Regions from separate parts of the Homo sapiens genome. Here region 2 is linked to region 1. Evidence: fine-mapped expression QTL. A gene starts in region 1. The other region holds a variant in brackets. All regions are shown on one strand. Distances are between the middles of the regions.

Evidence for each region. PIP is the estimated chance that this variant, and not a neighbour inherited with it, causes the effect.
Region 2: its variant is the best candidate, but not a certain one, in a credible set for the expression of DDI2 in monocytes after Pam3CSK4 (Quach 2016, PIP 0.68).

What each region holds. Positions count from the first base shown.
Region 1 is chr1:15,616,266-15,619,172 of GRCh38, reverse strand. DDI2 (DDI proteasomal shuttling factor 2) reads right to left here and starts at 1,715. Exons shown (of 10, transcript NM_032341.5): 1 at 1,365-1,715. The coding sequence starts at 1,502. RefSeq lists a silencer at 1,392-1,961.
Region 2 is chr1:15,678,129-15,681,035 of GRCh38, reverse strand. No RefSeq gene overlaps it. Among named protein-coding and RNA genes, the nearest start is that of PLEKHM2, 4.7 kb to the left of the region's middle. RefSeq lists an enhancer at 652-1,152 and a silencer at 1,855-2,402. The variant G/A (reference allele first, on the strand shown) is at 1,216.

The DNA of each region.
Region 1 (2,907 bases):
CTCCAGCATGGGCGACAGAGCAAGACTCCGTCTCAAAAACAAAAACAAAAAAAGAAAAAAAATTGAAGAGTTTATTTTCTCTATTTAAACAGTCCTTTCCTAGTTCTCCACATGAGGCATTCACTGACAGAACTGGTTCCTGAGCTTTTGTGGATTAACTTTTTAAATTCTTTCTGAACAGCTTTATGCCAAGGTTCTAAAGTTCACATTGTGTAAAGGAATCATACTTCTGAACAAAGTATTGACACGTGTTTACCATAAGACAGCAGAACAAGCTGCAGTTGGGCAATCGTTTTGTAAACTATTTCATAACTGCAGTAGAAAATCAAGATTTACTTGATGGAGACTTGGGAGACCTCTATAATTTTCTTAATGTTTAGACTATTTCCTCCAGGCTAAATTTATTAAGTCATGATCTAAGTGTTTTAGTGTAAAGTTTACAGCGTTAGTGTCACCGATTCTGTTTGATAAAGACTAGGGGCAGCCCCAAAGCATTTTGAGAATTACTTTGCTTAGTTAAAATATGAGAGGCTGAACTTCTTTCCAGCAAGCTGAGTAGGGAAATGAAACCACCAAACAGCACTGATACTAGGCCGTTTCCAAGCAAATATCCTTTTAAAGCATTGAGCTTTGAACTGACCCAAACTCTGAACTGTGACCTGAAAGAAAAAGGGCCTTCTGGCTTACTACCAGGGTAGAACCGAAACAAACAAACAGCTTGAGTTGAACCAATAGGTACTGTTTTTCAAAAGAATTTAACCAGAAACGCATGTGGTGGGTAAAGAGCATTTCCAAAGACCCCAAAATGAGGTAGTGCAAGTCTTAAACTTTTTCTTTCACCGGAAGTGCAAATCTGTGCATTTAAAGGTAAACTGCGTATATTTAAGCAGAAACCCTCTCCAGAAAAAAAAAAAAAAAAAAGCAGAGGAACATCTATCTACCACAGTGATCCAAACTGGTATTTCTGGTTTGCAGGATGTATGAATCCTAGCAAACCCAGGGCTGCTTCTGAGGTCCACAACGATATCCTACACTCGGGATTAGAAACAGGGAAGGGCCAAAGAGCCAAAGGTGGGGAGGGTTAGCGCTGCTCAACAGTCCACGCGCCCCTCACGCTGCAGTGGGTGCGTCTGCGGTCAGGTTCTCCGCTCCCTCTCCTCGTACCCCACCCCATGCTCGGAGTGTGTGAGGGCAGCTACTGATGCCAGCTCCCCAGCTCCTTTCCGGATGCGGGGGTGACCTGAGAATGGCTATCCTTGCTCCCCCCAGCCCCCAATTCTTCACCAGTAGCAAAGGGAGGGAGTGAGGCCCCGAGGCGGGGAGGGCTTAGCTCCGGGGCAGGCCCGGCTCGCTGCCCGGCGTACCTGGCTCTCGGCTGCGGGGATGCCAGACTCGAGCTCGCACAGCGCGCGGAAGTTGTGCAGCTCGAAGTCGGCGTCGACCTGGAGGGAAAAGGTCACCTCGGAGAGGTCCCTCCGCACACAGTACACGGTGAGCAGCATGGCCCGGGCCCGACCCGGCTCGGCTCGGCTCGGCCCGGCCTGGGCGCGGGGCGCAGGGGAAGAGGCGGCGGCGTGGCCTGGCTGGTGCTGCGGGAGGACGGCGCCGGCTGCTCGTTCGCTCGCTCGCTCCCTCCCTCACACACGCTCAGTGAGTCACTCCCTCCCGCCCTCACTAGCAAGCACGGCCGCCGCCACACGCCTGCGAGTCCGTCTGCCTGCCGGCCTGCCTCCCACGGCTGCCGCCAAGCGCGCCGGCCGCCCGGCGCCCCGCCCCGCCGCAACGCGGCTGCCGTAAAGCCCGCCTCGCCTTCCCCGCCTTCGCAACGCAGCGGGGGGCGGGGCCGGGAAGAGGAGGAGGAAGCCAGGAGAGGATAGGAGGGGGAGGAGTGGGAAGGGGGCGTGGAAGAGGAGAGGGAGGAAGGGCAAGAAAAGGGGAGGGAAGGAAAGGAACGCGGAGAAGGAAATCTCTGCTGACTGGTTGACTTAATGACAGAAGTCTGTGGAGGAGTCCCCGGTCTTATTTATTCACCGAACAGGCATTGATTAAGCGCCTACCATGTGTCGGGCGCTGGCGATGCAGAAATGAATAAAAGGATAAATCCTTCTCCGTAACTCTCAATCTAGTACAGGAGTTAGTAATAAAACATATTTTTCGAGGTAGAAATTGAGGCTCCGACAGAGTAATTCACTTCCTGTCTTAGTGATTTAGGATTGAAACCAAAATCATTACCCTCCCTAGTCTACAGAAGCCAGTTGGCTGTGGCCCACGCCTACCTCCCCAGCCCCTTCTTCCGAGCTCTTCCCACATTCTCTGCCCTCCCAGCCACATAGGTCAGTTCCTCCAAGGCTCCATTCCCCTGTCTTGTAAATAATTTTCTCTCTACTTGGACTGTGTCTGTTTCCTAGCCCTAGCAACTCCTACCACCTAGCGCAGTGCCTTTTTGGGCACAGCTTAGAATCTACTCAATAAATATTTGCTACTTTAATGGCCTGTTTTTAAGGCACACAGCTGATGAGTGGTAGAGGCCCAGAACTAAGGTGCGGATGAGTAAGAAAACCAAAACTGAAAGATGAACTTGTAATGGATGCCAGATTAGCATCTTTCCATTTACTCCCACTCCCCCTCCATGGTAGGGAGCCCTTTTCCATTTTAACAGGAGAGAAGGAGCAAATAAGATGGCTGTGGGTGCAGGTAAGTAGGTAGTAAGTAGGCTGTTGGTGGCAGGAAAGGGAGAATTAGCAGCTGAAGGCTTTTACAAAGAGAAATTAGAGGAGCTGGGCGCGGTGGCTCACGCCTGTAATCCCAGCACTTTGGGAGGCCAAGGCGGGCGGATCACAAGGTCAGGAGTTCGAGACCAGCTTGGCCAATATGGTGAAACCCCGTCTCTACTAAAAATACAAAAAT
Region 2 (2,907 bases), 62 kb before region 1:
CTCCAGCCTGGGTGACAGAGCAAGACTTCACCTCTTAAAAAACCCCAAAAAGCAAACCAAAAAAAAAAGGGTGACTCTGAAAAACACAAGATACTTATTTGTTATTGGGAGTCACTTAAGCTGGAAATTGAAGCTCATTCATTTATTGCACAAGACTTTTCTGATCTCATGAGAAGTGCATGGGACTCTGAGTCAAAAGGCAACAAGAATTAAAAGCCTCAACTGACTCATGCTAGGGCCTCAGGCAAGTCACTTTGCCTTAATTTCCAAATCAGTGACCCAGGAAAAATGATTCTATTCTTATTTTTTGTTGTTGTTGTTTTTTGAGATGGAGTTTTACTCTGTCGCCCAGGCTGGAGTGCAGTGGCTCCATCTTGGCTCACTGCAACCTCCGCCCCCCCCGGGTTCAAGTGAGTCTCCTGCCTCAGTTTCCCAAGTAGCTGGGATTACAGATTCCTGCCACTGCACCTGGCTAATTTTTGTATTTTTAGTAGAGTTGGGGTTTCACCATCTTGGCCAGGCTGGTCTCGAGCTCTTGACCTCATGATCCACCTGCCTCAGCCTCCTAAAGTGCTGGGATTACAGGTGTGAGTCACCGCGCCCAGCCTGTTGTTTTCTGAGACAGAGTCTCGCTCTGTCACCCAGGCTGGAGCGCAGTGGCGTGTTCTCAGCTGACTGCAGCCTCTGCCTACTGTCATAGCATTTAGAATACAGTCCATACTCTTTTCTCTGGCTTCCAAGGCTGATCTGATCCAGCCTCCCTCCCTGACTCATCTCCTAACTCTCCGCTGGTGTGTGCCAGCCCCACCAACCTTAGTTTCTCAAGCATGCTGGTCTGTTCGCATCCGAGGGCCTCTAGCTATTCACCCAAATCTGCTCTCTCTGGCTGCGTGTGATGGCTCACGCCTGTAATCCCAGCACTTTGGGAGCCCAAGGTGGGACGATCACTTGAGCCCAGGAGTTCAAGACCAGCCTGGGCAACAAAGTGAGACCCCCCATCTCTACAAAAAATCCAAAAATTAGCCAGGCATGGTGATGTGTTCCTGTGATCCCAGCTACATGGGAGGTTGAGGCTGCAGTGAGCCATGTTTGCACCACTGCACTCCAACCTAGGCAACAGAGCAAGACCCTGTCTCAAAACAAAAGCCAAACAACAAAAAAACAAAATCTTCTCTCTCTTTACACAGTAATAGGGTTGTAGCCAGGCAGAGTGCT[G/A]CACTACATTTCCCAGCCTCCTTTGTGACACGCACAGCTATATGATCAAATCCTCTCAAATAGAACATGAACAGAGAAATGTGATCCATTCCTAGGCTGGGATTCTATGCAAATTTCCTCTTCCATGCTGTTTCTTCTTCTACCAGTGCAATGAAGCCAAGGGGATGTCAGACATATAAAATATAGACACCCTAGTTCCCTGAATCACTGCATGGAAGAGAGCTGTCCATCAACCTAGAACAGCTGCCTTGAGCTGTAGCATAGAAAGGGCTATGCTACAGTTTCTTTTTTTCTGATTAATTTTCTGATTAATTTCTTTTTTCTGATTAATTTTTAACTTAATTAAAATGCAGATAAAGTTTTTAGCTGGCCATGGAAGTTAAAGGACAAAAGACACTGGGTGCAGTGGCTCACGCTTGTAATCCCAGCACTTTGGGATGCCGAGGTGGGTGGATTGCCTGAGGTCAGGAGTTCAAGACCCCAGCCTGGGTGACAAAAAATAAAAAAGAGAGAACTAAGGACAGATGTAAGGTTGCTTCTCTTTACACCTGATGATACAGTTTGGATATTTGTTTCAAATCTCATGTCAAAATGTAATCCTTAGGCCAGGCACGGTGGCTCATTCCTATAATCCCAGCACTTTGGGAGGCCAAGGCAAGCAGATCACTTGAGGTCAGGAGTTCGAGACCAGCCTGGCCAACATGGTGAAACCCCATCTTTACTAACAATACAAAAATTAGCCAGGTGTGGTGCACGTGCTTTAATCCCAGCTACACCGGAGGCTGAGGCAGGAGAACCACTTGAACCCAGGAGGCGGAGGTTGCAGTGAGCTGAGATCGCGCCACTGCATTCCAGCCTGGGTGCAGAGCAAGACCTGTCTCAAAAAAAAGAAAATAAATAAATAAATAAAAGGAATCCTCAGTGTTGGAGGTGGGGCCTGATGGGAGGTGACTGGATCATGGGGGTGGAGTTCTCATGAATGGTTGAGCACCATCCTCTTGGTGCTGTCCTCAAAACAGTGAGTGAATTCTTGCAAGATGTAGTCATGTAAAAGTATGTGGCACCTCCCCACCACTCTCTCTCACTTCCTCTTGCTTTTGTCATGTGATAAGCCTGCTCCTGCTTCACCTTCTGCCATGAGTAAAAGCTCCCTGAGGCCTCCCCAGAAGCTGAGCAATGTTGGCCCATGCTTGTGCAGCCTGCAGAATCACGAGCCAATTAAACCTCTTTTCATTATAAATTACACAGTCTCACTGAGCACGGTGGCTCACACCTGTAATCCTAGCACTTTGGGAGGCCAAGGCGGGTGGATCACTTGAGGTCAGGCATTCGAGACCAGCATGGCCAACATGGTAAAACCCTGTATCTACTAAAAATACAAAAATTAGACAGGCGTGGTGGTGCATGCCTGTAGTCCCAGCTACTTGGGAGGCTGAGGCAGGAGACTCGCTTGAACCCAGGAGGTGGAGGTTTCAGTGAGCCAAGATCACACCACTGCACTCCAGCCTGGGTGACAGAGCAAGACTCCATCTCAACAAAATAAAAATAAATTACCCAGTCTCAGGTATTTCTTTATAGCAATGAAAGAATGGCCTAATACACCTGATTTGAGCCTTTCCATTCTAGGAAGATAATGGGTGAGGTACTAGAGGTACTATGATCAAAGTCTGTACAACTATTAGCAGGGAGATA